Linked DNA regions of Homo sapiens: region 2 is linked to region 1. The links come from fine-mapping of genetic effects on gene expression. A gene starts in region 1. The other region holds a variant in brackets. All regions are shown on one strand. Distances are from middle to middle. Region 1 holds the start of CPSF7 (cleavage and polyadenylation specific factor 7). Region 2 holds the start of SAXO4 (stabilizer of axonemal microtubules 4).

Evidence for each region.
Region 2: its variant is fine-mapped to the expression of CPSF7 in whole blood (INTERVAL, PIP above 0.99).

What each region holds. Positions count from the first base shown.
Region 1 is chr11:61,419,096-61,435,360 of GRCh38, reverse strand. It overlaps CPSF7 (cleavage and polyadenylation specific factor 7), which reads left to right and starts at 5,386. Exons shown (of 10, transcript NM_001142565.3): 1 at 5,386-5,447; 2 at 6,071-6,179; 3 at 13,753-13,971; 4 at 14,788-14,891; 5 at 15,267-15,412. The coding sequence starts at 6,126. It overlaps SDHAF2 (succinate dehydrogenase complex assembly factor 2), which reads right to left and starts at 5,237. Exons shown (of 4, transcript NM_017841.4): 1 at 5,179-5,237. The coding sequence starts at 5,214. RefSeq lists enhancers at 5,107-5,166, 5,523-6,171 and silencers at 5,113-5,448, 5,307-5,476, 5,587-6,016.
Region 2 is chr11:61,469,497-61,485,168 of GRCh38, reverse strand. SAXO4 (stabilizer of axonemal microtubules 4) reads right to left here and starts at 4,049. Exons shown (of 14, transcript NM_145017.3): 1 at 3,953-4,049; 2 at 3,251-3,387; 3 at 2,741-2,858; 4 at 2,361-2,514; 5 at 353-481. The coding sequence starts at 3,359. RefSeq lists an enhancer at 2,318-2,612. The variant T/C (reference allele first, on the strand shown) is at 3,865.

The DNA of each region.
Region 1 (16,265 bases):
AAGAATTCAAACTAGCCATAATAAAGATGTTCAATGAGCTTTGGAACATTGAGAACTTGAACATTGAGCTTGAACAAAATGAGAAAACCAAAAAAAAGACAGAAAACATTAAAAAATAACCAAATGAAAATTTTGGAGCTGAAGAATACAGTAACTGAATTGAAAAATTCACTAGAGGAGGCCAGGCACGGTGGCTCATGTCTATAATCTTAGCACTTTGGGAGGCTGAGGCTGGAGGATCGCTTGAGCTCAGGAGTTCGAGAACCAGCCTGGGCAACACAGTGAGACCCCGTCTCTAAAAAATAAAAATACATAAAAATTAAAAAATTAGGCCCGGCGTGGTGGCTCATGCCTGTAATCCCAGCACTTTGGGAGGCCAAGGCGAGTGGATCAAGAGGTCAGGAGATCAAGACCACCCTGGCTAACAATGGTGAAACCCCGTCTCTACTAAAAATACAAAACATTAGCCGGGCATAGTGGCGGGCGCCTGTAGTCCCAGCTACCTGGGAGGCCTGAGGCAGAAGAATGGCGTGAACCCAGGTGGCGGAGCTTGCAGTGAGCTGAGATCGTGCCACTGCACTCCAGCCTGGGCAACAGAGCGAGACTCCGTCTCAAAAAAAAAAAAAAAATTAAAAAATTAAAATAAATTAAAAAATTCACTAGAGAAAATCAATAGTAGACCTGATCAAGCAGCAGAAAGAGTCAGCAAACTCAAAGACTGGTCATTTGAAATTAGTCAGGGTTTTTTCTAAAAAAAAAAAAAAAAAAAGGAATGAGAAGGAGTGAAGAAAGCCTTAGGGACTCCATCAAGGAGATCAATATACACATTATGAGAGTCGTATAAGAGAAAGACAGGGGCAGAAAGCTTATTAGAAGACATAATTGGCTGGTCTCAGTGGCTAATGCCTGTAATCCCAGCACTTTGGGAGGCTGAGGTGAACGGATCACCTGAGGTAAGGAGTTCAAGACCAGCCTGGCCAACATGGCGAAACCGTCTCTACTAAAAGTACAAAAAGTAGCCAAGCATGGTGGCGCGTGCCTGTAATCCCAGCTACTGGGGAGTCTGAGGCAGGAGAATTGCTTGAACCCAGGAGGCAGAGGTTGCAGTGAGCTGAGATTGTGCCATCGCACTCGTCTCAGTGATAGAGTGAGACTCCATCTCAAAAAAAAAGACATAATGGCTAAAAACCCCCAAAGTTGGGGAAAGAAGTGGACATCCAGATTCAAGCCTAACAGATCTCAATTAACATGAACCCAAAGAAGTCCATACTGCGACGTATTTTAATCAAACTGTCAAAAGTCAGAAAAAGCTGGGTGCAGTGGCATGACCCTATAGTCCCAGCTACCTGGGAGGCCGAGGTGGGAGGATTGCTTGAACCCAAGAGTTAAAGTACAACCTGAGCAACAAAGCAAGATCCTATGTCTTTAAAAAGTCACAAAAGAGACACCAAGGATGTGCATGCACAGAGAAATGTGAGGACACAGTGAAAAGGTGGCCATCTGCAAGGCAAGGAGTGAGGCCTCGAAAGAAACCAAACCTGCCAACACCTTGCTCTTGGACTTCTAGCCTCCAGGACTATGAGAAAATTAATTTCTGTTCTTCAAACCACACAGGTTATAGCAGCCCTAGTAAACTAATACAGCATGCGATGAAAATTCAGATTCCCAAGCCCCACCATAAACATTCTGGATGAGAATCTCTAGGACTGGGCCCTGACGAATGAATTTTTAACAACCCTCTAAGAGATTCTGATGCAGACTGAAGGCAGGGATTCCTACTTTCTATACTAAAATAACATGATTGAGTAATTTCTACAGAAATGAATGCGGATGGGGAGGACTATCCTCATCAGTACAAGGAAATTGTTCTAATAATTGGGATGTCTTATTATTTTAGCCAAATTTCACCCATTTTTTTCTGTTAGTATCAAGGCAGCATTCCATAAAAGAAACAATAATGGTTGTCACATAGTTCCAGGGAATTGTGTGATACTGGTATGAGTTGTGTTAAATTATCACTGGAGGCCGGGTGCGGTGGCTCACGCCTGTAATCCCAACACTTTGGGAGGCTGAGGTGCGCGGATCACGAGGTCAGGAGATGGAGACCATCCTGGCTAACACAGTGAAACCCCATCTCTACTAAAAATACAAAACATTAGCCAGGCATGGTGGCGGGCGCCTGTAGTCTCAGCTACCCGGGAGGCTGAGGCAGGATAATCGCTTGAACCCAGGAGATGGAGGTTGCAGTGAGCCAAGATCGCGCCACTGCACTCCAGCCTGGCAACAGAGCGAGACTCCGTCTCAAAAAAAAAAAAAAATTAAATTAAAAAAATATATAGAGAGAGACAAGTACAGAATACTATAATACTGTAACTGTGGTATGTAAGTCACTTTTAATTTTGGTATAGAAATTAAAGACAAAGGTATAAAAACAACTATAAAAATTTGTTAATGGAGACAATATAAAAAGATGTAATTTGTGACATCCACAACATACAAGGGGGTCATAAAAGAGCAGAGTTTTTGTATGCAATGGAAATTAAGTTATCAAAACAGATTGTTATGTTTTATATAAGCCACATGGTAACCACAAAGAAATACCTGTGTAAGACACACAAGGAAATGAGAAATTCGTTTCTCAAAGTATGTCACTACAAAAAAAAAAAAGTCAACGAAATATAAAGGATGACAAGAGTGGAAAAGAGGAGCAAAAAGGTTGTAAGACAGAGAACAGTTTACAAAACGGCAACAGCAAGCACAGTTGGCCCTCCGTATCTGTGGGTTCCACACCTGTAAATTCAACCAACTGCACACTCAACCAACTGTGGATCAAAAATATTCAAAAGAAATAAATAATACAACAATTAAAAAACAACTAAGATATAGTATAACAAGCATATACATAGCCTTGACATTGTTTTCGGTATTATAAGTAATCTAGAAATAATTTAAAGGATATGGAAGTATGTGTGTAGATTATATGCAAATACTATGCCATTTTATATAAGAGACTGAGCTTCTGCAGAGTTTGATATCCACAGCGGATCCTACAACAGTCATCCCATGGATACAAAGGGATGATTGTACTTCCCTATTTTATTTATTTTTTGAGACAAGGTCTCACTTCCAATGCCCAGGCTGGAGTGCTGTTGCAAAATCAAGGCTCACCGCAGCCTTGACTTCTCAGACGCACTCCCGCCTCAGCCTCTCAAGTAGCTGGGACTACAGGTGTGTACTACCACACCTGACTAATTTTTTTTAGTAGAAAAGGGGTTTTGCCATGTTGCCCAGGCTGGTCTCGAACTCCAGGACTCACACGATCCACCCACCTCGGCCACTATTTACTTTAGGTATAAATGGATTAAACTCCAGGCCTGGCGCGGTGGCTCACGCCTGTAATCCCAGCACTTTGGGAGGCTGAGGCGGGCAGATCACGAGGTCAGGAGATCGAGACCATCCTGGCTAACACGGTGAAATCTCGTCTCTACTAAAAATACAAAAAATTAGCCAGGCGTGGTGGGGGGCGCCTGTAGTCCCAGCTACTCCTAAACCAGGAGATTGGCGTGAACCCAGGAGGTGGAGCTTGCAGTGAGTCGAGATCATGCCACTGCACTCCAACCTGGGCGACAGAGCGAGACTCTGTCTCAAGAAAATAACATAACATAACATAACCTCCCCAACCAAAAGACATGAAGTGGCTGAATATAATGAATTAAAAAAAAGATTCAACTATATGCCGCACAAGAGACATTTTATTAAAATCTGGAAATCAATGGCAAAAGAAAAGGTGGAAAATTCACAAATATGTGGAAATTAAACAACACACTCTTGAACAATCAATGAGTCAAAGAAGACATCAAAAGGAAAATTAGAAAATATCTTGAGACACGCCGGGAATGGTGGATCACACCAGTAATCCCAGCACTTTTTGGAAAGCTGAGGCAGGAGGATCACTTGAGGCCAGGAGTTTGAGACCAGCCTGGGCAACATAGTGAGAACCTGTCTCTACGAAAAAAAGAAAAAAGAAGGGAAACAACAGGCCGGGCGCGGTGGCTCACGCCTGTAATCTCAGCACTTTGGGAGGCCGAGAAGGACGGATCACCTTAAGTCTGGAGTTCGAGACCTGCCTGGCCAACAAGGTGAAACCCCATCTCTACAAAAATACAAAAATTAGCCAGGCATGATGGCGATGCCTGTAATCCCAGCTACCTGGGAGGCTGAGGCGGAAGAATCGCTTGAACCCGGTAGGTGGAGGTTGCAGTGAGCCAAGTTCGTGCCATTGCACTCCAGCCTGGGCGACAAGAGCAAAACTCCGTCTCAAAAAAAAAAAAGGAAAACAACAAAAAACAAACAAAAAGGAAATATCCTGAGACAAACTAAAACCCAACATATACAAAATTATGAGATGCGACAAAAGCTGTACTAAGAAGGAAGTTTATAGTGTAAACGCCTACATCAAAAAAGAATAAAGATCGAGTCCCTGGGTCTGCAGGAAAAAAAAAAAAGAATAAAGATAGGGATGGGGGTAGGAGGGGAAGATAGAGGCAAAGTTAGTTACTTTATAACAGCAGGCTAGGAAAAAAGAATAATAAGTTCCAGTGTTCTATTACATATTAGAGTGACTACAGCTAATAACACTGTACTGTATATGTCAAGATGCTAGAAAAAGATCTTGAAAAGTTATTACCGTAAATAAATGATAAAGATTTGAGGTGATGGACATGCTAACTACGCTGATTTGATTATTCGATGTACACATGTATTAAAACATTATACTGTACCCCCATAAACACGTACAATTATATGTCAATTATAAACAAACAAAAAGCTGAAGATACTATGTGAAACCACGAAAAGCATTAAAGACTAAAGAACGGGGAGAAGGGGAGCCCAGGGAAGTTGGGCTAATCCCGCCTGGGACGTAGGTGAGAGGCGAATTGGGTCTTGGACGATGACTGATCGTTTAAGCAGATATTTCCAGACCGGCACACAGTAGGCTCACCAAAGAATGGAAGCGACCTTTATTTCCTGAGTTGCAGGATCGGCCTCTCCCTGGGCCTGCCCTTGCCCTGCGCTATCGGGCAGACGAACTCTCCCCAAGATAGAGACCACAGAGGAAGACAAAGGGTAATCCCCGCTGCCGCCCGCCCCGGACGCTAGAACGTTCTCTCTCCTCACCAGCGACGAAGTCGAGAACACTGTAGACACCGCCATTTTCCCCACCTGCACCGGAAACCGGCTGCGCGGGCACTTCCGGGAACTCCTAGCCGCCCGGCCAGCCGACCACGGCAGCCACGGAGGAGCTGAGCCGGAAGGTGCGTCCCTGCGCATGCCGGAAGTGGCGGTGCGTGTGACGCCGGCGGCGGGGGGGGCGGGACCTGGGGCGGAGAGCGGTTCGCGCGCTTCGGGCCTAGTCCGGACTCGCCGCCGCCGCCGCCATATTCCCGGTAACGGGGGCGCGCGGTCGGGGGCAGGTTGGGCCGGAAGAGGGGTCCGGGCCGGCACTGAGGCGGGAAGGGGGTCGGTTGAGATGGGACGGCCGGAGTCTGCGGGCGGAGGGAGTCGCGGGCCTTTTGAGGGAGGAGGCAGAGCGCGCCGGGCCGGGTTTGTCGGGAGGGAGCGGGGCGGGCCTAGCTGGGGGCGAAGAGTAGGCCTGGGTTGGGGGCAGAGGCGGCTGGAGCTGCTTGACACCTGGGGGCTCTGGCCGGAGCCGCCTTGGGGGCTAGGCAGGTGCAGCGGATAGGGGCTGCGGGCTTCGCCGCGGTCATTCTTCGCAACGCCGTCCTAGGGCCACTAGGACCCGAGGGTGGGACTTTTCCGTCGCGCCATAGGCAGCTGCGGCGCAGACGCGGCGCTACCCGGGTCGGGCCCGAGGGTGATGGGCAGCGACCCCCGGCGGCCTGGGAGAGCGGTGGGCGGCGCGAGGCCGGGGGCGGGGCGGAGCGGGTGGGGCCGAGCTGGGGCCGCCAGGATGCTGCGTCTCTGGAGATGGGAGGTTAGCAATCATTACCCTCTTCCCAGCCCAGGACCCTCGTGCCTTCTAATTCTTGCATTTTTCCGAATCCCGCAGTGGCATCTTCCTTACTTTGTCCATCCTCCGGACTCGCGATCTTCCTTCCGGAGCCATGTCAGAAGGAGTGGACTTGATTGATATATATGCTGACGAGGAGTTCAACCAGGTGAGGTGTCATCAGGAGCTTTGGGATTTTCCTTGATCATCTGAGGAATCATTTTCAGCAAACTGGCAGTGGTTTCAAGCTGTACCAGTCCTAGGCTTGAACACGCGTCTATCCGGTCTAAAATTTTTCTCCTGCAGAAACTTTAAAGACTACACTCCATTCCTCTTTATGTTAATTTGAAGCTCCAGGCTTAATTTTAAAGGCTTTGATTTAAGAGCAAATAAAAAGCAGGTGTAATAGAATGGTGAATCAACCTGTGGAATTTACTCCCCAGGAAGCCAAAGGTGGGTGTCAGACTAACCACACTTAAAAATCAAAAGTACATTTGCTACGGTATTCATGAGGACAGTGTTGATACCGGTTCCTTTACATTCTCAACCTGCAGCTGGAGAAGTGTAGTCCCCTCCATCGTGACAGTGCAAAAGCAAAGTAGAAAAGATGACTTTAACATTTAGTTTCAACTCCATTCCAATTAAGTTTTACTTCCTTTTATAAGTAGGTTGACTCCAGTCATGAGAAGTCCACAGGCATTTTGGTATAATAAATTGTATTGGTTACCTTTAGTCTTTCTAGAGGGAATAAAAGAGTAAAGACGTTAGACAAACCAGTTAGAAAACTGATAATAGACCCATGCACATACCCTCAGTTGGATTTGTTTTTATTGTACCAGGGAACATTATACAGAAATTTATCTAGAGCTGGGCAAGGTGGCTCTTGACTGTAATCTCAGCTGCTCTGGAGCCTGAGATGGGAAGATTACTTAAGACCAGAAGTTCAATACCAGCCAGGGCAACATACCAAGACCCAGTCTACAAAAATGTAAAAAAAAACAACAACGAGATATGGTGGCTTGTGCCTGTAGTCCCATCTACTCTGGAGAGTGAGGCAAGAGGTACTCCCTGAGCCCAGGAATTCAAGGCTGCAGTGAGCCATGATTGGGCCGCTGCACTCTATCCTGGGCAACAGAACAAGACCCTGACTCTTAAAAACACAAGAAAAATTCTCTCAAAGAAATAATCTTCCATGCAGTTAAGTTTTTCAGTCTTGAGGTCAATTCTCAAGAATGTTCCAAAATTTCTATTGAAAACGTACTAATATCTTGCCTGGGTTATTTTCAGCACCATTCTATGTAAGTAAGCTGGCTCTTCCCATTTGCATCTTCCAGTGGGTACACATAAGGACCTGGTAAGAGCATGTATTGAATGGGTTAGAAAGGGAAAGTTCCCTGGTTTGACCCTGACTTTGATATGAGGCAACAGAAGAGGCGGATACATGCCATTTATTTTTCACTTGGCATAAGTTTACATGAAAATCTATTTTTTGATGTATTATGGTTTTATAACATGGAAATTATAAACCATACACAAAAGCAGAATAATGTAATGACCTTGTACCCATTATACAGCTTCACCAATTATACTTTTTAATGGCAGGTTTCTTGTCTCTGTTGTGGTTAACTGTGGTCCTTTAAATATAGCTGCTGATTATCTTAAATAGATGAATTTTCCTTTTTTTTTTTTTTTTTTCTTGAGACAGAGTCTCTCTCTGTCACCCAGGCTGGAGTGCAGTGGCGCGATCTCGGCTCACTGCAACCTCTGCCTCCCAGGTTAAAGTGATTCTCCTGCCTCAGCCTCCTGAGTAGCTGGGACTACAGGCGTGGGTCACCTCACCTGGCTAATTTTTGTAATTTTAGTAGAGACGGGGTTTCACCATGTTGGCCAGGTTGGTCTCGAATGCCTGACCTTGTGATCCGCCCGCCTTAGCCTCCCAAAGTTGGGATTACAGGCGTGAGCCACCGTGCATGGCGAAAAAATTTTTTAGTTTTAAATAAGTCCAATAATTATGGATAAAAGAGAAAAGTTCTAGATGTTAATTTAGTTACAAAATCATTGTTTTCCTGAGTTTTCCATATTCATTTGAATCAGACTTTTAATACCTTAAAAAAAAAAACACACAGTCTTGCTGTGTTGCCTAGGCTGGTCTCTCAACTCCTGAGCTCAAGCGATTCTCCCACTTCAGCCTCCCAAACTGTTGGGATTATAGGTGTGAGCCACTCTGCCCAGTTCAGACTTTTTGCAGATTATGTTTTTCCCCCACCAAGATAACAAGAGCGGTCCTTAGTTCTTCTCTTTTTTTTTTTTTTTTTTTTTTTTTTGAGACAGAGTCTCTCTTTGTCGCCAGGCTGGAGAGCAGTGGCACCATCTTGGCTCGCTGCAACCTCCTTTTCCCAGGTTCAAATGATTCTCCTGCCTCAGCCTCCTGAGTAGATGGGACTACAGGCGCGCGCACCGCCATGCCCAGCTAATTTTTGTATTTTTAGTAGAGACGGGGTTTCACCATGTTGGCCAGGATGGTCTCAATCTCTTGACCTTGTGATCTGCCCACCTCGGCCTCCCAAAGTGCTGGGATTACAGGCGTGAGCCGCCGTACCCAGCCACCTTTGTTATTAATGAAAAGCTTTTCCCCTTCTAATTTCTTATCTGTGGATTGATAATAGTGCCATTCATTTCACTTTGAGAAATACGCAGAACTCATTGTCCAGTGGTCACTGCTTTGTTAGAGTATAAGTTATTGGCCTCAATAGTTTGTTCTCTGGTCTCCTCAGTTAAAAAGGACTTTTTTATGGGTCTAAGACAGGCTAAAGGTAGTATGTGGACTTTAATAGATACATATATCCAACGGGCAATATTTGACACTAGGCAAGCTGAAGAAAGTGTGAATTTTGAATATCTTATGTTTTGTGGAAGGTGAGGGATGAGTGCTTCCCCCCCACACACATATCAATTAGTTATTTTTGACAAAGTTAGTGTTAGTGTCATCTGGAAGCTACAGAAATTATTTAAAAAACAAAAAAACAAAAAAACTTTGGCTAGAATTGTTAGAAGCTGGCTTAGTCTGAAGGCACCCAGTACAAATTGTGTTTTAGAATGTTTTAAGAATGTTACTGATTTCGCCCCAAGCTGGCCCATGCACAGGAAGCCCTTCATGTGCACTTTGCTCCTCAAGGAAAATTAATATTTTTCCTAGATGGAACCCTATGGTGCTTATTCCCTGATCTCTTAGAGCATTTGCTGCAAAAGCCTGTTTTTGCCAGAGCTACTTTATTCCTGTAACACAGGGAGTCCTGGGATTCACATTGGCTCTCTTGGGCCAGGGAGAACTCTGGAAAGGTGACTGAGATCAGTTGCTCTGCTGGGAGTTTTGGCTTTTCATACTGAGACAGGCTTTGCACAGTGTCCAGTTCTCTTCCTTATGTCCATCAATAAGTATTTATTTATTGAGCTACTTGTGTTTGCTAAGCACTGTGCCAGGACTAGTGAGGTAAAAGGAAAAAAAAGTGGGTCCCTGTACTCAAAACAGATTCCACTCCTGGTGGGTAGGGGTGGTGGACAACGACAATGTACAGTGAAGGACAAGGAGGGTGTGAAGTGGGAACTGTGGAAATGGTCATTATAAAGCCAAAATTTTTGATTAAGCCTTGGTTACAATTAAAAGAAACAATGGTATCAAGTTGGTTGCTCTGAGAAAAATAAATCCTAGGCTAGTTACTTCCCTCAGTGGGATATGAGGAAGAAGAGGGTGGAGGTTAGGAACACTGAGCAGACAAGTGGAGAAGATCTTATTTAAATTGAAAATCACACATGTTCTCTTTTGTTTACAGGGAAGCAGGAAGTTTCATGAGACAGTCACAGTTCTTTCTGTGCCATTAAACACAAAATTCTTTGAGATAGTTATTCAGTATTAAATATATGTTTCATGTTTAATCTCCCTGGAATGAAACTTTGAACATCAGTGCATGTAAAATGTACTTTTCACTTAATTTGTAGAATTTGATTTTACTTTAATCTATTACTGCATAAATCCGCTGAGAAAAATCTCCGGCCCTTAACTGTGTTTCTGTCTTACTAGCTGAACAAGTAAAATGAATTGTGATGCTGGGGGATTAAAATCCAAACAATTTGATACCTTGTTTCTTCAGTAGAACCCTCAACAGACCTGCCCTGTGCAGTTCCCACCAGCTTCTTTGAACTGAGGCTCTGTGGCCCAGAGAGACCATTTAAATCTTGTGATAATTTTGTATTCATTCAATCCTTTTGTTTCTAAAAGTGGTAGCCATACCAAGATTCTCCAGGATCTAGTCTATCCTATTCTTAAGGGATCTTAAAACAGTGGATTGGTTGCCTAAGCATATAGTACGAAGGGTTTCCTGGTGATGCATTTGGTCTCTGAGCTGTCCAAATCTGCATGTTAGTCCACTACTCAATTTTCAGTGATCATTTTTACATTACAAATTTTAGACACATATACCTGAATTACAGATACTGCATGGAAGGGAATCTCAGTTTGGTTCCATTCGATTATCCAAGATGATGTGTTTCCTTATTCTGTTTACGTGTCATTTGAAAATCCTTGATTTAAAAAAAAAGAAGGCTGGGTGCAGTGGCTTACGCCTGTAATCCCAGCACTTTGAGAGGCTGAGGTGGGAGGATCACCTGAGGTCCGGAGTTAGAGACCAGCCTGGCCAACATGGTGAAACCCCATCTCTACTAAAAATACAAAAATTAGCTGGGTGTGGTGGTGCACACCTGTAATTCCAGCTGCTCGGGAGGCTGAGGCAGGAGAATCACTTGAACCCAGGAGGCGGAGGTTGCAGTGAGCCAAGATTGCGCCACTGCACTTCAACCTGGGTGACAAAGTGAGACTCTATCTCAGAAAAAAAGAAGAATCTTGGTGTGAAGTAGTGCTTTCTAAGGATTTGAGCATTGGATGGGATCAAGTGATGTATATAAATCCTTTCTCTACCTTGAACCACAGGAGCAACTCACCATACCTGGTACATGAATAGAAGAGTGATTTGTCTATAGAGTTGGGATAGTTTGAGACGTAACAGCTATGAAATATTTTATAGTGATTACTTACACACAAAATGTTTTCCCACTCATTAGCCCTAGCTGACCTCACCTTACTTTATTATCCACCCTGTCCTCTCCAGTGTTAGCTTCTCTCCTCATTCTTTACATGCTGACCCTTTTTATGCACAATCCTTTTTGATGGATTTGACTACATGGAACAAGCTTCCTGTGCTTATTTGCCTCACTAATTTCTTGTTGTTAAGTTGCCCCCTAAAAGTTTACTGTCTCTTGATATTCTTTTTCTAACGTTTTTACAAGGGTTAAGCCCTCCTGGTGGGTTTCTTAGAGTGTTTTAATATTTGAAATTATTTATATGCTTTAGGAAGTAGAATCCTTCCCCCTTCTCTATCAGAACAACCCAAGATTATTCTCTTAGTGTGCATTTTCTTCCACTGTACTTCAGATAAACTGAAAAACTGAAAGATTGTTTCCAAAGGTTCTTATAATACAAGGACTGGTCTAAGAGTAAATTTTTTAGTGAGTCGTCTTCAGATCACTTCAGAATTAGCAGTTATTGCCGTGATATTGGAGGGAGAAAGTTAAGGGAGCCGCCTGTCTTTAGTTGCCTTGGAGAAACTGTTTCTTCAGGGTACTAGACAAGTTTCCCAACTTAGGTGCCTCCTTTATTCCCTTTTTAAAAGAATAGCAATATGAAACTGCCGTAGCATCCTTAAAACACTGAACTACTTGCTGTCTCTGTCATTTTGGCAGCATTATCTTTAGCATTGTTTGAATGTTTTGTCTAATTCTTGTAATAAAAATAAAATGCTTGTCTAATCCTTAAAAAGATTTCTCTGAGGCTAGGCACGGTGGCTCACGCCTGTAATCCTAGCACTTTGGGAGGCCGAGGTGGGCAGATCACGAGATGAAGGGTTTGAGACCAGCCTGACCAACATGGTGAAACCCCATCTCTACTAAAAATACAAAAATTAGCTGGGCATGGTGGTGTGTGCCTGTAATCCCAGCTACTCAGGAGGCTGAGGCAGGAGAATCACTTGAACCCAAGAGGCAGAGGTTGCAGTGAGCTGAGATGGCGCCACTGCACTCCAGCCTGGGCAATGGAGCAAGACTGTGTCTCAAAAAAAAAAAAAAAAAAAAAGATTTCTCTGAGGTAATTACATTGTAGAATCCTGAACCCTTTTTTTTTTTTTTTTTTTTTTTTTGATATGGGGTCTCACTCTGTTGCCCAGGCTGGCTCACTGCAACCTCAACCTCCCGGGCTCGAGTGATCCTTCTGCCTCTCGAGTAGCTGGGACTATAGATGTGTGCCACCATGCCCAACTAATTTTTGTATTTATTGTAGAGATAGGGTTTCACCATGTTGCCCAGGCTGGTCTGAAACTCTTGGGCTCAAGCAGTTTGCCTATCTCTGCGTCCTAAAGTGCTGGGATACAAGGCGTGAGCCACTGCACCCAGCCTGTAAAATCCTAAACATTAAGGTCCTGTATCGTAGTAGTAGTAGTTGTAGTTTTAGGGGTTTTGGTATATAGTAAGTAAGATATCACATAGGCAGAATATGTATTTTGCACATTTTCCATAATACATATTCATATTGTAAATGCTTACTGTGTGATACAGTTTATGTTCTTGTCCTGTTTTCTGGCCCTTATATTTTAGAGAACTTTAACTGTTTTTTGTATATCATTGAATATTGGCTGGGCATGGTAGTCACCCCTGTAATCCCGGCACTTTGGGAGGCCGAGGCCAGTGGATCACTTGAGTCCAGGAGTTCCAGACTAGCCTGGGCAACATGGTGAAACCCTGTCTCTACAAAAAAAATTTGAAAATTAGCTGGGCATGGTTGCGCATGTCTGTAGTCCCCAGTTACTTGGGAGACTGAAGTGGGAGGATCACATGAGCCCAGGAGGTTGAAGCTGCAGTGAGTTGTAATTGCACCACTGCCCTCCAGCCTGGGTGACAAAGTGAGACCCTGTCTCAAAAAAAAAAAAAAGTCTCCTAGATACATGTCATGGTAATGCATTGGGCCTGTATGTCATTTAAGAAATAGAACTTAGTAGGGGAAAACCCCTGTTGTTATTCCCTTCCCTTTTATTTATTTTTTATTTTCTCCGATGGAAAGATGGGATTGTGTACAATGAGTTTAGAGCTTTCCTAAATCATTTATACCAATCAAGGGATTTAAATCAGTAACTCCCAATCTTTTCTGCATTTTTGTACCCACTTTCATGCTTTTCCTCTGCATTCTGTTTCTAAATAAATTTATTATTAAATAGACAAGTGAATTTTATGTAACACTTGATTTTGGAAATAGCATAAGATACTGAAAATAAGTTTTCATTAGCTTATCTTAGATGTGGTCTTTAGAAGCTGACCTTATTGATAACAGCAGCCCATGCATCTCATTATGCATTCTTTCTTTGCTTGCTTAATCACCCAGTGCTTTTTGATTCTTGCCGTTGGCTAAAGCCAGAAACTTTACAGACTATTAACAGAATCTTGAGGGGAAAAAAATGTACATAAGCATAATTAAGTGATACAGTTTCAAAAGGAGGTTTTTCTTACTTTGTTTCCTGGGGTAGGACAAGGAAGTTTTGTACATGTTTTACCAAGTATTTAACTGGATTCTAATAAACTAGAGTGAAATAGAATGAACAAAATGAAGTTTGCAGACCTACCTTTGCCAACCCCTCATCTCTTAGGACCCAGAGTTCAACAATACAGATCAGATTGACCTGTATGATGATGTGCTGACAGCCACCTCACAGCCCTCAGATGACAGAAGCAGCAGCACTGAACCACCTCCTCCTGTTCGCCAGGAGCCATCTCCCAAGCCCAACAACAAGACCCCTGCAATTCTGTATACCTACAGTGGCCTGCGTAATAGACGAGCTGCCGTTTATGTGGGCAGCTTCTCCTGGGTGAGTGTGGGTAACCAAAAATGCTTAGGGGTGGGCTGGAGGGAGAGCACTGGGAGGTGATGGCATTTTCAGAAACTACTGTTGCACTGTTTTGTGCTCTGATGGGGTTGGATTTCTTTTTCCTGGGATCAGGTTGGATTGATCTCTGAAAGAGAACTATCCTGAGGACGTACTGGTGCCGAAGAAAGCAATGATTAAGTGGGTAGTTGCTTTTTCTGCCATCTTGTTACTGCCCCTGACCCTGGGGCTTTATGTCTAGCAGGGTCATCTGAGGGACGAGATTTCAGAGTGAACACCTTGAACTCTTGGTGGTCATTAGATGGTCCTGTGATAATGGTGGGTGATGGGGATTAAAGACCTTGATAACTCTAGTATACTTGGGGTAGGTGGTGACTGTTGTTCTGCAAGTTATTTTGTGATGTTTTGGGGCTGGTGGTGGGGGTGGTTTTTCCAAATTAGGAAGTATATTTACTGTGGGGGAAGTTCTGGCAATGGTCAACTCTAGCCTGACAGATCTATAATTAAAAAATTGCTAGCTGTCAATGTTTGAACTGATGACCAGCCAGCCCAAACGGCAGTCAAAGTTACAATAAGTTTTAATCTTCGTAATCTCTAAAGATGGAGATTGGGGGTGAGTGGGTTTGGAATTCTGTATGGGTGAGGACAATAAGAAAAGTCTGCACTAATTGAAATATTGCCAGGCTTTTGAGTTTCCTCTGGGGGGACTTAGTTGTGACTAGAATCCTGGGTTTGGGACATTGGCGGGCGGGGGTGTAGCTCTTGACATCTCTTCCTTTTCCATCTTGCCGGCCCCAGTGGACCACAGACCAGCAGCTGATCCAGGTTATTCGCTCTATAGGAGTCTATGATGTGGTGGAGTTGAAATTTGCAGAGAATCGAGCAAATGGCCAGTCCAAAGGGTGAGGTCTGGATTTGAGAAGCCCCTTTTAATTTGTAACCATTGGGATAAAAGATCTGTACTATATTTTGGCCCTGGATTTTAATCACTCCCACCCCTGGCCCAGCTTACTGCCTTGGTTTTGGCAAACTGCCTTAGAAAGGGACCTAGCTGCAGTGTAGTAGAATATCCATCTGTTAAGGGGCGAAGAATACTGATTTTTAATTCCAAAAAAATAAAGATTTAGGCTGTCTCTTTGTTGTTAGTGCTGTATGTGTGTTTAGTTTAGCAAGATGTCCTTTGCTTTATCAATTTTTACTAAAAGTGGAAGAGAATTTCTTTTTTCTTCTCTTGGCTGTCTACAGATTTCATTCATTTTTAATTTTTCTTTCCTAAGGTATGCTGAGGTGGTGGTAGCCTCTGAAAACTCTGTCCACAAATTGTTGGAACTCCTACCAGGGAAAGTTCTTAATGGAGAAAAAGTGGACGTGAGGCCGGCCACCCGGCAGAACCTGTCACAGTTTGAGGCACAGGCTCGGAAACGTGAGTGTGTCCGAGTCCCAAGAGGGGGTACGTGGAGACCATCTGTATGAGGGGGGGGTGTTTGTGGGTTTGTTTTCTATGGTGTAGGCTTAGCCTACAGTGTGGGTGAGTTTGGGGGAGGGTGATGGTGGTTGTGAGTGGTGTCATGGTCGACAAGTAGTCCTCAGAATAGGTCTATATAGAAGAAAGAGCATTGTGCTGGGAGTCAAGTAGGTTCAGGTTGTAGTTTGGTTCTGCCACTGACTCGTGTGACCTTGGCCAAGTCACTTTACTACTTAGGGCCTGTTTCCCCATCTGGACTAGTGACATGATGTTTAAAGTTCCATCACCTCTAAATTCTGTGTTTCTGTCTAAAACTTGGCATTAGGTGAATGGGCTTAATTTTTAAGACATGCCTCTCTATAAATTATCAAGAAGCAGCCACCCTAAAATGTAACTAAAAGGTGCCTATAATCTTTTCATAAACGTTGATTGGAAGGATACTGTAAGGAATCAACCAAGAGGAGTGTTGGAGAATAAGACTTGAACAATATTTCTCCAGCATTGTCCAGGGGAGAGGGTGCTCTTTTGATTACCAAATGTTTTAGTCTGCTTGGCAGTTATATCCCATTAGTAAAGAAAGTTACAGGCCGGGCGCGGTGGCTCACGCCTATAATCCCAGCACTTTGAGAGGCCGAGGTGGGTGGATCACGAGGTCAAGAGTTTGAGACCAGCCTGGCCAACATGGTGAAACCCCATCTCTACTAAGAATACAAAAATTAGCCGGGTGTGGGTGACACATGCCTGTAATCCCAGCTACACGGGAGACTGAGGCAGGAGAATTGCTTGACCCCGGGAGACGGAGGTTGCTGTG
Region 2 (15,672 bases), 50 kb before region 1:
ATTTCAGCACAAAGCACAGTTCCCCTGTGACTATGAATACCACGTCACACCCCACACCAGACTCCTGGTAATGAGTGGGGGGCCCAGAGGGACCGAGACCAGGAGGGGCCGTGAGCAGGAGGAGGAAGGCTGGGGGAAGAGGAGTAGCGTTAAATCGCGAGAAGCCACATTGAGGCTATTTTGGAAATAGCCAATATCAAATCCTTTGCTCTCCCATCTTTCTTGGCGCCCTGAGCCCACCCTGAGCTGGCTTCTTGGGTGAGTCAGTGCAATACTTGTCTTGAGGTGGGAGGAAGAGGCGGGTGTGGCCCCTCTGCCCCACCCCGAAGCCCTTAGCTGGGCTGCCACTCACATGTCGGAAGTTCTCCCGCTCCAGCGGGTCCTGGCCCTGCTGCTGGTGGAGCAGAGGCACTTCCCTGGGCTCCAGCCCCGTGATGGCCTGAGGCCCGTGCTCCTGGGTGTCGAAATGGACCTTCCGGACCTGGGAGGAAGAAGGGCCAATTACAAGTGAGGGGGCGGCAGTCACTCCCTGACTCTGCTTCTGCCCTTGACCTTTACAGAGCGCAGTATCTGCAGAGCAGCCAGAGGGGGTCCTTTTACAATGAAACCTGCATGTCCCCTCTCTGCTTAGAGCCCTGCAGCCTTCCCATCACACTCGCAGGGAATTCCACGTCCTCCTGGTGGCCTGCAAGGACCTGAGTGCCTCACCCTGCTCTAGCTGCTTGTCTCCTTTCTGTTCCCACCTTGAGGCCTTTGCACTTGCTGTTGGCACTGCCTGGACCACTCCTCCCTCAGACAGCTGCAACTGGAGGAGCTGGCCTCCCTCAAGTTTTTGTCCAGTGTCTCCATAGCAAGCTCTTTCCCGACCCTCCCGATTTGCAGTTGCAACTCCTTCGCTTCTAATTTATTTATTACTTACATTTTTTGAGACAGAGTCTCGCTCTGTTGCCCAGGCTGGAGTGCAGTGGCATGATCTCAGCTTCCTGCAAACTCCACCTCCTGAGTTCAATCAATTCTTGTGCCTCAGCCTCCCAAGTAGCTGGGACTACAGATGCAAGCCACCACACCTGGCTATTTTTTTTTTGTATTTTTTTGGTAGAGATGGGGTTTCACCATGATGGCCAGGCTGACCCAACAGCAGTTGGCCTCAAGTGATCCACCTGACTCAGCCTCCCAAAGTGCTGGGATTACAGGTGTGAGCCACCACGCCTGGCTTTATTTTTTTTTAGTCCAAGTCTCATTCTATTGCCCAGGCAATCTCAGCCTCACTGCAACCTCCGCCTCCCGAGTTCAAGCAATTCTCCTGCCTCAGCCTTCTGAGTAGCTGGGATTATAGGTGCGTGCCACCATGCCCAGCTAGTTTTTGTATTTTTAGTAGAGATGGAGTTTCACCATGTTGGCCAGACTGGTCTCAAACTCCTGACCTCAAGTGATCTGCCTGCTTCAGCTTCCCAAAGTGCTGGGATTACAGGTGTGAGCCATCGCACCTGGCCTCCAACTCCTTCACTTCTCTTCCTCCCTGCTTCTCCCTGTTGTATTTCCTAACCCCCGCCCCACCCCGCACTCCACCCGCTCTTATCATCTTCAAATATGAAGGAGATATTCAGAACATTCTCGCTGGATGAATGAATGAGTGTCCATTTTGGTGGTGGTGCTGATGATAAGAAGGGTGGTAATAATGAGGATAGAAATGAAAAAGATGGGGCTGGGCGCAGTGGCTCACGCCTGTAATCCCAGCACTTTGGGAGGCTGAGGCGGGCAGATCACGAGGTCAGGAGATTGAGACTATCCTGGCTAACACGGTGAAACCCTGTCTGTACTAAAAATACAAAATATTAGCCGGGTGTGGTGGCACATGCCTGTAATCCCAGCTACTGGGGAGGCTGAGGCAGGAGAATCGCTTGAACCCAGGAGGTGGAGGTTGCAGTGAGCCGAGATCGTGCCACTGCACTCCAGCCTGGGCAACAGAGTGAGACTCCATCTCAAAAAAAAAAAAAAAAAAAAGAAAAAGAAATGAAAAAGATGGGGTGAGGATGTCCATGGTGGGGGGACAGTGGTGGTAGTAGGGACAGTGATGGGGCTTGCAGGTGTGGACGGGAGTGTGAGGCTCATGGGAATGGGGACAGGGATGGGGATGGAAATGGAGGTGGAGGTAATGGTGGGGCTGGGGCAGGGAATAGAGGTGGTGGGGATGGTGGGGACAAGGATGAGGACAAAGGGGAGAAAGATGAGTGGACCCCATCCCTACAAGGTGGCTGCTCCATGCCCTGTCACCTCCACCTTGACCAACTGTTGGCAGTGCAGCCCTAGCCCCACCCCACCCTGAGGCTTCCCTCTCCTGGCCCTGGCCCAGCACTGACCTCCTTGGTGGGGGGACCCGCACTGGGCTTCTCCCGCCCATAGCCTGAGCTGGTCTGGCGCATGCTCCAGGGCAGGGGATGCTTGCCGTCAGGCACCTCCAGGGGGCGGTAGCTCTGGCTGGCCACAGACTGGAAATGGTCCTGGGCTTGTTCCCTGAGGGTGAGGAGGAGCTAGAACCCCAGGCCGCCTGCCTCTGTCCTCTGCTAAGGAGCTTCCCTCCTCCCTGCACCCTCCCACAGATGGCTCAGAGGTCCGCTGTGCCCTGAGTCACCCAGGACCCCCAGCCTAGGGCAGGCAAAGCTCAGGGTCCCCATCCAAGGAACCTGGAGTTGGTCTGATGAGCAGGGCAGGGGCTGGGAAGGGGCCATACAGACCGTACCCCCTGGCCGGGTTGTCTAAGGCCTCCAGACTGGCTTGGCATGAGACCACGGGCTGGAAATTTGATTTGTAGCCGGTGCCTACGTGACTGCCCACACGGGGCTTGAAATCCTCCCGACCTGCCAGAGGGGTAACGGGGAGACAGACCCCAAGGTCAAAAACAGGCAGGGCTTCCCAGGCAGGGCCAGCGTCCTCCGAGGGGCACAGGGGTCACAGTGACAGGGGAGGGCTCAGAGCCACGGGCAGGAGCTTTGCAAGCCTGCCCTTTCAGGACTGTGATGGCAGGAAATGGAGTGGGTGGGCTGGGGACAAGGTCAGTGTGGCAGAATCACAGTGACAGAATTGCAGGGACAGAACCAGAGAAGGGAGCAGCCGGGCAGGGCCCAGGGGACAAACGGATTCAGCAGTTGCTCTGCAGTGTGACAGCCAGAGGGTCTGCTCCTCCCTCAGAGAGAGCCCCTCCCTTCCTGCCCATGTCCTAGCAGAGGCTCCTGCGCAAAGGCACCCTCACCGTAGGCGGTGCAGTAGCTGGTGGCGTAGAATTTCAGGGGGTCCGTGTAGCCCCCCGAACTCATCTTCACATAAGGGGAGACGACCCCCAGGGGGAGTTTCCCCATCATGATGCTGTGGGGCAGGGCCCCAGGGGGCCTAGAAAGGAAGCACGGGGAGCCTCATGGGTCCCAAGCCTGGCTCGGAAGCCCACAGGGGCGAAGATCTGCCCCCCACCACCCACAACGCAGCTGGCCCCTTCTCCCAGGCCTCTGTCTCTCTGCCCCAGCTCCCAAGTCCCTAAACTAAGGACGAAACCGATCATCCACACTTATCCCAAGAGTCCTCATGTCTCCTCTCACTTTCCCACACCTTCTTATTAACTCTTCCTGTCCCCATTTACCACTGGGACAGTGAGGTTCCAAGTGATAAAGGATTTGCTCCATAATAGGTGGTAGTGCTGGGATTCAGACCTAGGTGTTTGACTACTCGGCCCCTGACCTGAACCTTACATACCCACCTCTCGGAATGAATGAGCCGACAACCCACTACCTGGGGAATTCTTGGCCCCCACCCAAGAAGTCAGGCCGAGGCGCTCACTCCCAGCCCCCGGCTCCTCTCTCTCCCTCATCTCCA[T/C]GGCCTTGCCCGCCTCTGGCCTTGCCTGCCTCCCCTGGGAATTGGCTGCACTCTCCCCGAGGCCCAACCACAGCGGCCCCACCCTCACCTTTCCTCTGCAGAGGCTCTGAGGTCGGGGAGAGGCTGCAGGAAGCAGAGCTCTGCAGAGAAGCCAGCCCTCCTGGAGGAGGCCAAGCAGGAGAAACAATGTGTAGCCTAGCAACTGGTGCCTAGCAACAGCGTCCCCAGGCTTCTGAGACCTTCTAGGGCCAGGGCCCACTGAGGGGCTGACCTGGCCAGGAGGGGAGGGTCAGAAGCTGCCCGAGCAAGGCCCTGCTTCCAGGGCTCCGGCCCCAACCTCCGGCCTCCTCCACAGGGCTGGGAAGAGTTGCTGTCTGCGTGACATAAAATAAAAGATAATCCCGAACACTCACTCCCATAAAGTACCCACTTCTCGGCAGATACTTTACATCCTCTATCTCCATCCTCTGAGCAGCTCTTCAGTAGCTATGATTATCCCCATTTTCACTGGGGGAACATGAGGCTTAGATAAGCAAAATGACTTGACTCCAGAGATCTCGCAATCAGAAAATAGCCAAGTTGAGATTCAAACGTGGGTGGATGTGGATCCCGCTCTTCTGCCTCTCGGTAAATCAACATTTACTATGTTCCTCTGGAGCTGAATCTGTGCTAAGCCCTTTAACACACATTACGTCGTGTAATCCCCCAAACCACCCTGTGAACTGGGCACTATTATTGTAGGGCCAATAAACCGCAGCAGTTAAGAGTGTGGTTCAAATCTGATCTGTCACCTTTGATGAGGTACTTATCCTCTTCACGCCCCCAAATCCCCATCTTCGCAAGGGACGTGACTGCACCCACCTCACAGGGCTGCTGGCAGATTTAGCAAGAGCATGGATTCAGCACCTGACAGGTAGTAAATGCTCTTTTTTTTTTTTAAGAGAGACAGGATCTTATGCTCTCACCTGGGTTGGAGTACAGAGGTACCATCATAGCTCAGTCCAGCCTCCAACTCCTAAGTTCAAGCAATCCTCTTGCCTCAGACTCTCAAGTAGCCAGAACTACAGGTGTGCTCCCCCCTGCCTGACTTGCTTATTTATGTATTTATTTGTTGTAGAGACAGCGTCTTGCTATGTTGCTCAGGCTGGTCTTGAACTCCTGGCCTCAAGTGATCCTCCTGCCTCAGCCTCCTGAGTTGCTGGGATTGCAGGGGCAAGCCACCACACTCGGCAAATGCTCAATTTGCAAAAGCTGCTGTACTTTTAGTCTTATTTTGCAGATAGGAAAGGCGAGGCTCAAGGGGAAATAGCCCAGGCCCCACAGTGGGTGGAGACGGAGCCTGGACTCAAATCTGAGTGCGCAAACTCCACAGTGAGAATCTTCTTCCATGACAGCCTTTTTGCCTCAAATTGGCTTTCAGGCTTGTAAATGTTGTAACAGTTAGATCTCTGGGTGGGGTGGGATAGCCCTACTTTGCAGCATTTGCCAATTTCTGTGATGTCAGTGGTCCCATCAGGGCTGCTTTCAAACCACCACTACAGTGTCTTTGAACCGGGACATGGGAAGGTCGCTCACCACTGTACGGGAGTAGTCCCATCATGCAGACATAATGGGCGTAAGTAACCTCGACAGCACAAATAATAGAAAAATGTACTCACATAATTAAGGGGTGATGAGTTTTAGGTATTTTTTTTTGTTTTTAATATAATTCATTAAATTGCAGGTTTAAGTTATTTATTTATTTATTTATTTATTTATTTATTTATTTATTTATTTGAGATGGAGTCTTGCTCTGTCCCCCAGGCTGGAGTGCAGTGGCACGATCTCAGCTCACTGCAACCTCCATCTCCTGGTTCAAGCAATTCTCCTGCCTCAGCCTCCTGAGTAGCTGGGATTACAGGTGCACGCCACCACGCCCAGCTAATTTTTGTATTTTTAGTAGAGATGGGGTTTCACTATGTTGGCCAGGTTGGTCTCGACCTCCTGAGCTCAAGTGATCTGCCTGCCTCAGCCTCCCAAAGTGCTGGGATTACAGGCGTCAGCCACCGCGCTCGGCCAGTAATTTAATTTTTAACAATGGCAGAGTTAAAAACCAGCTTGCCAATTTCCTGGAAGTTTCGCCTTCAGCTCTCCTGAGCCGGTAGAGCTGGCTTCAGAGCACCCCTGCTCTCAGGGGAGAGTGAGGTATGAATGAAGGCTGAATAAAGGGAAAGGAGGCATCTCCTTTCCTCACCCAGGAGATGCCCTTGCCGCATTCATCCTGTAGTGACCTGGCCTGCCAGGGTGGAGGCTCACTCGTGTCCTCACCCAGCCCCCCATGGGAAGGCAAGCTGAAGCACGTTTGGCACCCACCCTCCGGACTAACGATTCTGTTCAGGGATCACAGGGCACAAGGACACAGGAGTGAGTGCACACAGCCCTGCCCTCCAGCAAAGTGCTCCCATTCTACTACAGAGGCTCGTGGGAGTTCCACACACGAAGCACAAAGGGTGAGACCACCATAGGTGAGGTGCTCACAGGGTGAAGGGAGAGAGGGGCCCTCCTCTAAGTGTGCCTGGATAAGTGGCTACGAGCAAGAGCTTGGACTCTGAAGCCAGATGGTGTGGGTCCTGTCTCTGCCACTAGATAACCGTAAGACAGTGCATGTTCCTTGTGCCTCAGTTTCCCCTTCTGGAGAATGAGTATAATAATGGTAACTACCTGCAGGGTTGTGGTACGCACGAAGCATTTAGCCCAGTACCTGGCACACGGTAGGTGCCATCTAAGAGCTAGGGAAAGAGGTTCCTTTTGAGTACTCACTGCCTGCTAGGCAAAGGGTTGGGCCTAAGGGTTACAAACAGGAAATCCACATGGCCCTGGCCTCAGAGAGCCCACGGTTTAGGAAGGATCTCAGATGTAGCAAAAGAAAGCTCACTGTGGGAGCCCGAGTTCAAAACCTGCTTCTGCTGTGTGTGACTCGGGGCTTCCTCTCTTTGAGCCTGTTTCTGTACCTGCAGGCAGGGATAACTGTGCCTACCTAGCAGGGTCGCTGGTGGATTTGAAATACCCTATGCACAAGAGGTAACAGGCCTGCACCAGGCAGAGATAAGGAAGGGCCCTCTACGTGGAAAGCCCGACAAACACAAAGGCGGAGACAGGTGTCCAGCAGGCTGGGAGCCCTGACTAGTGCAGCGTGGCTGGAGCACTGCGTGGGGAGGAGAGGCTCAGCTGGGAGAAGCAGCCCCCAGGTAGGCTGTAGCCAGGTTTTCCTTTTAGCAGGTGGAGGGGGCAAGGAGGGGTGGTAGAAAGGTTTGAAATCATCCCTTAGGGCTTCTCTTAGGGAGGCTCTAGGCTGTAGCCGACCAAGGACCTGGGCAGGAGTTCAAGGGTCGGGGATCAGGGTCTGGCCGGCGCTGTCCCATCAGAGCCCCCATTAGGTCCCGTCCTCCCGGCGGCCCGTGGGTTTTTTGCTGTGTGGCGACACCCAGCGGCCATAACTCGGAACTGCAGGAGATGCCGCAGATGAATCCCTAAGACCGGGGTCGGGGGGTCCTAGGAGTTGGGGACAGAGCAGCTCCGTCGACCTGGCCACAGCCCCACCCCAAGCCTCACTCACCCATCCCTCCAGAACAGGAGGGTTGCGTCTGGGCAAGGAGTGTTCCGGGAGGGCAAGCGCTGGAGCCCACAAGGAGCGGGAGCCCAGGTGCCAGGTGACCCAAGAGCAGCGTGACTTTTGGACCTGTCACCTGTGGACCTCAGTCCTTCTATCTACAAAATGAAGGAACAGACTAAAAGTCCTTCCATACTGGAAAATCTAGGCCCACCTCATCCCACTCCCTTCCCATATCTGTCCCCATTTATTCAGCACTTTATTGTGCCAGAGCTGAGCTACGAATCACCTCATCATCGCTTTTCACTCCCGGCTCTACGTGGGAACTACTATAATCCTGCCCATGTTACATGTGAGGAAACTGCCTGAGGCCTCGCAGACAGGGAGGAGTGGAGCTGGGATCCAAACTCAGCTTTGACCCTGGAATCTATGCCCCGCCCTCTGGAACACACCAGCAAATTCTCCAGAAAGCGCCGGGACCTTAGCACTGGGCTTTTCCAAAGGGATGATTTTCCAAAGGGATGGGCTGCCCTGGCCAGATGGGCAACTGCCTCCTACTTTCTAGCTCTGCCCAGTCCTGGGCAGTAAGATTCCCGTTTCCAGCCGGGCACAGTGGCTCATGCCTGTAATCCCAGCACTTTGGGAGGCCAAAGCAGGCAGATCACCTGAAGTCAGGAGTTCGAGATCAGCCTGGCCAACATGGCAAAACCCCGTCTCTACTAAAAATACAAAAATTAGCAAGGCATGGTGGTGGGCGCCTGTAATCCCAGCTACTCGGGAGGCTGAGGCAGGGAGAACTCCTTGAATGCAGGAGTAAGAGGTTGCAGTGAGCCGAGATTACACCACTGCACTCCAGCCTGGGCGACAGAGCAAGACTCCATCTCAGAAAAAAAAAAAAAAGATTCCCCTGTTTCCCTCCCATACGAAGGCAGAGGCTACAGACACACTAGGTTAGCAGAGAGGACCCAGTGAGAGGACATGCTGGGTCTCAGCCCATAGAGTTCCTTGGCTGGGATCAGTGGGGTAGGCCCTAACAGGCTCCCGAGGCCAGAGCACACCACCACTGAGTGCTGAGTCCTGAGCAGAGACAGACATCTGCGCTCTGTGCTGGGCCATGTGGGCTGCAGTTCCCTAAAAGAGGATTAACTGAAGTGAATGAGCCACACACCACCAAGTGTGTGTCATTTTGCTTTGGTTGATGTGGGTCTTTATAGCCGCCCTCAGAGGGAAGCCAGGGCTCTTGTAGGGAAGAGACAGGTTGGCATACTTCAGCTTAATGGATAGAAAAGCCTCCTAACACACAAAATAATCCAATAGGGGAACAGGCTGCCCTGGGGGGAGTGAGTTCCCCATCCCAGGAGGCATGCAACAGCTTGACAGGATGACAATAAGAGCAAACTTTCACTGGTTCGTTAGGTATCAGGGACTGTTTCTAAGCACTTCCCATGATTAGCACAATTAAACTTCACCGCATTCCTACCTGGTGGGTGGTATCAGCTCCTCCATTTTATAGATGAAGAAACTCAGACACAGAGAGGCTGCGTAACTTGTCACAGGTCACACAGCTACTAAGGGGAAAAGCCATTATTTGAACCCAGACATCCTGACTTCAAAGGTCATGCTGGTGACCACTTTGATATTGCCTCAAAGGTTGAGCTAGAGGTTCTCAGATCTATTTTCAAAATCTGACCTCCTATGACTTTTTAAATCTCTTTTTAAACCTGATTACCTCTATAGAGAAAAAAAAATAAAAAGATTTTAAGAAAATGTTTATAGAGACAGGATCTTGCTTTGTTGCCCAGGCTGGTCTCAAACTCCTGGCTTCAAGGGATCCTCCTGCCTCGGCCTCCCAAAGTGCTGGGAATACAGGTGTGAACCACCATGCTAGGCCTAAAAATCCTTTTAAAGAGTTCACCCCTCTCATGGTCCTCAGTTTGTGCTGGGCACTGCTGGGTGAAAAATTCACAGAAGAAAGGTCTGAAATTGTTCGAATCAGCTAAGATGATTGAGAAATGGGAAACAGATCCCTGGGATGCAGCTAAAGGCACTGAGCCCTCCCAGCCCAGGAGGCTGGGGGTGGCAGGGAGAGGGTAATTATACTCCTACTTTTGAAATTCCCATGCTGGAGGCTGGGACAAGCCTAGAGTAATGTTTCTTGGCTTCAGGTGATCTGAGGTTACATGCCTGCCCCTTTCTGAGCCTTTTCTAGGCTTGAGTTTGAGGTCTGGCTCTGGCACAAATAGTGCTATGTGACCCTTCTTAATTAACTGCCTCCCTCTGATCCTGTTGCCTGTGAAGAGGGGGTTGAGCCAGGATAGGAGGTTTGGCTTGCTTTAGTTTGAGATGTGTTGTTTGGCCTGGAGAACTTGGAGCTCTGTCTTCATATACTGAAGTGATGGCTGGTTCCACGTCCCCTCCCCCTGGGCCCCTCACCTGCCATCTGTGACATAGCAGGACCCCAGCCTACCCCCTTCCAAGGTCCTTCCCCTCTGCCTTATTACAGCGGGGCATGGAGGGGAGTCGGCCTCATGCCAACCCACACTCAGCCTGGCCTCTAGGCCTGCTGGACCTGCACAGGGAGTTTCTCCCAAGCCAGACTCCAAGGTGCCCACAAAGGACACAAGGGCTCACTGAACCCCTCATTCTGCCCCCAGAGTACTGTTTCCCAACCCAGATTCTTCTGAGCCCACCAACAAAGCTCACCCAGGTGAGATGCCCCAAGCTCAGCTGCTCCAACTGACCCTTTCAGGGGAGCAGTTTGAAGCTGGGACGCAGCATAAAGGGGATCATGGCAGAGAAGAGCTGACTGGGAGGACATCAAGTCTGTGAGGCCCTGTCTTCCCTGCGATGGGGAAGAGCATGGAGCCCTGGATTCGTGCAACCACCTTTCTGTCTAGTCCTGGGAGTGGGGGCTGCCCTGCTTCATGGGCTCAGCTGTGTGAGCACCAAGGAGTGATGGGTGACATAATGACCGTGGGGGCGCAGGTTGGGTCCAGGGCGTGGTCTGCAGGCAGGCCTGTCATCGATTTTGCCCATTTCCAGTTTCTCTGCTCTGTGACTTGCAGTGATTAAGGCAGGAGAGCTGCCCAGGACTGGGGCCCCCCTTCCGAAAGTGCTTTGGGGGTTCTATTCACTGAGCTGTGTCATTACCAGGAACTGAAATAGCCCAAGTCTAATGGCTAAGTCCCATCTCTCTCTCTTTCGTAAAAGGAAATGATTCCCCTGATGACCGGATTGCTTTCCCTCACAGCCTCCCACAATCCTGGCCTCACTTGTGGTTCATTTCTCCCCTCAGTGGGCATTTCCTGGAAGACTCTATCCTGTGTATCTGATGGCTGTTCTGTTCCTGCCTGTTCTGTTCTTTTACTGTCTCCTCTGGGTGAACTTGTTGATCTCACACAAGGTTTAAAAATTCATGACTCGCGGGGAAGATGAAATGAGATGAGGCAGAAAATAAGAAGCCATTCCCAATCCTCAGATGGAATGAAGATATTCTTGGCAGAGATGAGCAAGGAACCAGGACAGGGGTCAAGGGGGTGGGTTTCCAATGCACAGAGATCTGGGTTCAATTCTGCAGCCCTGCCTTTATGAGGTATGTGCCCTTGGACAACTTCCTTAACTTCTCCGAGCCTGTTTCCTTGGCTGTATGATGAGGTCACAGTAGAACTTTAAGAGACTTAGGCTTGGAATACAGAAAAGACAATATTTACATGCTTAGCACACAGCCTGGCATAGAGAAAGCACTCAAGAAATGTTTATGATTATCATTGCATTTTCCTGCCTTCCTTGCAGTTAGATAAGGGCCACATGGCTGGTTCTGTGGGTGGAATTGAGCAGTGCCACTCCCAGTCTGAGTAGTTAGAGGTGGGTGTGAGTTTTCCATTCTCTGTGGGTAGAAATCACACTTGGGATGGAAGAACCAAAAGATGGAAGCAGGCTGGATCTCTGAGTCACTGCATGGAGTCAGCTGCCCTGGAGCTGCTTTTCCTGCAGCACACTGGGATGTGATAGAGAGATAAACCTTGCTGCTTTAAGCCTCTAAGGTTTGGGGTTTTGTTTGTTACTGCGGCATAAGCAAAGAAATGAAGATTTGAGAACTTCTTAGGAAATAAATTAGGATGTGATTCTGTATTAGTCAGCATTCTCTAGCAAAACAGAATGTGCACACACACACATACACGAGAGACAGAGAGAGACAGATTTATTATACAGAATTGGCTCTGCCTGGGCCAGTGATGCCTGTAATCCCAGCACTTTGGGAAGCTGAAGTGGAGGGTTGCTTGAGCTCAGGAGTTCAAGACCAGCCTGAGCAACACAGTGAAACTCCGTCTCTACAAAAAAAAAATTTTTTTTAATTAGCTGGGCATGGTAGCATGTGCCTGTAGTCCCAGCTACTTGGGAGGCTGAGGTGGGAGGATCACTCAAGCCCTGGAGGTTGAGGCTGCAGTGAGCCATAATCGTGCCATTGCAGTCCAGCCTGGGCAACAGAGTAAGACCCCATCTCAAAAAAAAAAAAAAAAAAAGGAATTGGCCCACGTGACTATGAAGGCTGGCAAGTCCCAAGATCTTCAGGATGAGTTGGTTGGCAAGCTGACGACCCAAGAGAGCTGATGGCTTAGTTCCAGAGTAAGTCCAAAGGCTTGAGAACTGAGAGAGCTGATGTAGTTCTTGTCTCAAGGCCAGCAGGCTTGAGACTCAGGAAGAGCCAGTGTTCCCAGGCGAATCTGAAGGCAGGATAAAAGCCTGTGTCTCAGTTTGAAGGCTACCAGGCAGAAAGAATTGCCTTTCACTTGCGAGAGTGTAAGTCTTTTTGTTGTATTCAAACCTTGAGCTGATTACATGAAGCCCACCCCGGTTAGGGGGACAGACTGCTTTACTCAGTTTACCAATTTAAATGCCAATTTCATCCAAAAACATCCTCATAGAAACACCCAGAAGAATACTCGATCACATATCCAGGTACCCAGTCACCTAGACAAATTGAGACACAAATTAACTGTCACATTCAGGCATATGAAACTCACTGGAAGCAGACAGATGAGAGGCCTACTGAAATTTTGAGAAAACAGTAATGCCCAAAAAAAATGGGGCTTTTTTTGTTTGGTTTTTGTTTTTTTTTTTTTTTTTTTAGAGAAAGGGTCTTGCTCTGTCACCCAGGCTGGAGTGCAGTGGCGCAATCATAGCTCACTGTGACCTCAACCTCCTGGACTCAAGAGATTCTCCCGCCTCAGCCTCAAGTCGCTGGAACTACAGGCATGAGCCACCGCCCCTGGCCATGGGCCTGGTCTTTAAAAAGATTGTGACTATTTGAAACTTAAAACTTCCATGGGCAGGAAGTGGGCTGAGAAATCCACACAACCCTCAAGGAGGGTGGAACACACAATCCCTACTTCAGATATGATCGAGTAAAGTAAGGTAGGGGAAAAAGAGCTTTAAATGAGGGAGCCAAGCGGCCCTGAGAGCAGCGATGAAGGTAGTTCCTTCCAGAAACTTCCCTACCCCTCCACAAGGTCTGCCCAGAAGGCCTCAGCTCCCACTTCCCGGGGTATCCTTACTGTGGTTATCCTGTCCCTGCCCCTACTCCACCTTTGTGTATGGCGTGGGGGTGGGAAGGGAGAAGCAGGTAACCTGCCTTTTTTTTTTTTTTTTTGAGATAGAGTCTTGCTCTGTCACCCAGACTGGAGTGCAGTGGCATGATCTCAGCTCACTGCAACCTCTGCCTCCCAGGCTAAAATGATTCTTGTGCCTCAGCCTCGCGAGTAGCTGGGATTACAGGTATGCGCCAGCACACCTGGCTAAATTTTGTATTTTTTAGTAGAGATGGGGTTTCTCCATGTTGGCCAGGCTGGTCTCAAACTCCTGTCCTCAAGTGATCCACCTGCCTCGGCCTCCCAAAGTGCTAGGATTACAGGTGTGAGCCACTGTGCCCAGCAGGTAACTTTTAAAATTTATTTTTATTTTTTATTTATTTTTTTTTTGAGACGGAGTCTCGCTCTGTCGCCCAGGCTGGAGTGCAGTGGCACAATTTTGGCTCACTGCAACATCTGCTTCCTGCGTTCAAGCGATTCTCCTGCCTCAGCCTCCTGAGTAGCTGGGATTACAGGCACGTGCCACCACACCTGGCTAATTTTTTTTTTTGTATATTTAGTAGAGACAGGGTTTCACTGTGTTGGCCAGGCTGGTCTCGAACTCCTGACCTTAGGTGATCCACCCCCTTGGCTTCCTAAAGTGCTGGGATCACAGGCGTGAGCCACCGCACCCGGCCCCCAACAGGTAACTTTTTAAAATTCCTACATCTCTGGACCAAAAAAGGCCACCTCTAGACCTCATAAAGAGACCCTAGGGCAGCCCATGAGATCCTGGCTGGAGGCAGGAGCTGCACATCACTCTGGGTTTTCTCTCTTGGAAAGCAGTTTCATGTTGTGTGTTGTGTGTAGGAAGAAGAGCAAATCCAATGCGGTACATGGAGACCAGCAGAACAGACTGTGGTAGAGACTTCAGGCTCAGCCAGATCTGGTTCTCTTCTCCTTCCTGGGTACCAGGGAGAACCACACCTCCCAGGCTCCTTGCAGTTCCACAGGAACATGTGACTAGCTCCGGCCCAAGGGCTCGGAGAAGTGTCACGTGTTGCTTCCAGGTTGCAAGTGAATGTGAGTTATCCGCACTTTCTCATTCCCTTTAGTAGCAACCGTGGAGACCACATGTTGAGATGGCAGAGCGTGGATCCCTGGGCTGCCACAGAAAGGAGCTGTCCTGAACAGCTGCCCAGTTCACATTGGACTTGGCACAAATGAGAAATAAGGGTTGCGTTGTTAAGTCGCTGAGATTTGGGGGTTTATTTATTATCATAGTCTAGCCTAACGTGACTAGTACACCTTTCAATTAGATAGTGGCTAACTATATCATGCATAGGAGGGAAAGGAAACATCTAGAAAGTATGGTAAGTTTGTGGTTTTAAGAGAATCCTGTGGCTGGGTGCAGTGGCTCAGGCCTATAATCCCGGCAATTTGGGAGGCTGAGGTGGGAGAATTGCTTGAGGCCAGGAGTTTGAGACCACCCTGGCCAACATAGCAAGACCCTGTCTCAAATTTAAAATTTAAAAAAGTTAATTAAAAAAACAAAAAAAAAAAGCCCGGGCACAGTGGCTCATGCCTGTAATCCCAGCACTTTGGGAGGCCAAGGCAGGTGGATCACAAGGTCAGGAGTTCAAGACCATCCTGGCCAACATGGTGAAACCCCGTCTCTACTAAAAATACAAAAATTAGCCAGGCACGGTGGCAGGCGCCTGTAATCCCAGCTACTCGGGAGGTTGAGGCAGGACAATCGCTTGAACCCGGGGGGCAGAGGTTGCAGTAAGCCGAGATCGTGCCACTGCACTCCAGCCTGGGCGACAGAGTGAGACTCCGCCTCAATAAATAAATTAACCAATTAAAAAAAAAAAAGGCCAGGTACAGTGGCTCACGCCTGTAATCCCAGCACTTCAGAAGACCGAAGTGGGTGGATTGCTTGAGTCCATGTTTGAGACCAGCCTGGGCAACATGGTGAACAAAAAATTAGCTGGGCGTGGTGGCACATGCCTGTGGTTCCAGCTACTTGGGAGGCTGAGGTGGGAGAATCGCCTGAGCCTGGAAGGTTGAGGCTACAGTGAACCAAGATCTCGCCACTGCACTCCAGCCTGGGCAACAGAGTGAGACCCTGTCTCAAAAAAAAAAAAAAAAAAAAGAGAATCTCATAAAACACTCAAAACATTTTCCACTAACTTGTTGAGTCTCATTAACAACTTCCATTTGCAACAGATATCAATGGTCTTGGATCCAGCACAGGCAGCTTCATAAAGAGTCTCTACCTTCATTTATTTCATCAGTCAATTAGTCATTCAATGAACATTTAATGAGCACCAACTATGTGCCAGGCACTGTGCTAAAACACAGAACAGAATGGAACGTAATGTATGTATGGTCCTTATCCCCCATGGAACTAGTAGTAGAGAGAGTTACACATAATCTCTCTGGGCTGGGCTTGGTGGCTGGCACCTATAATCCCAGCACTTTGGGAGGCTGAGGCAGGCGGATTGCCTGAACTCAGGAATTCAAGACCAGCCGGGGCAACATGGAGAAAGCCGATCTCTACCAAAAAAAAAAAATAGCCAGGTGTGGTGGTGTGCGCCTATGGTCCCAGCTACTTGGGAGGCTGAGGTGGTAGGATTGCTTGAGCCTGGG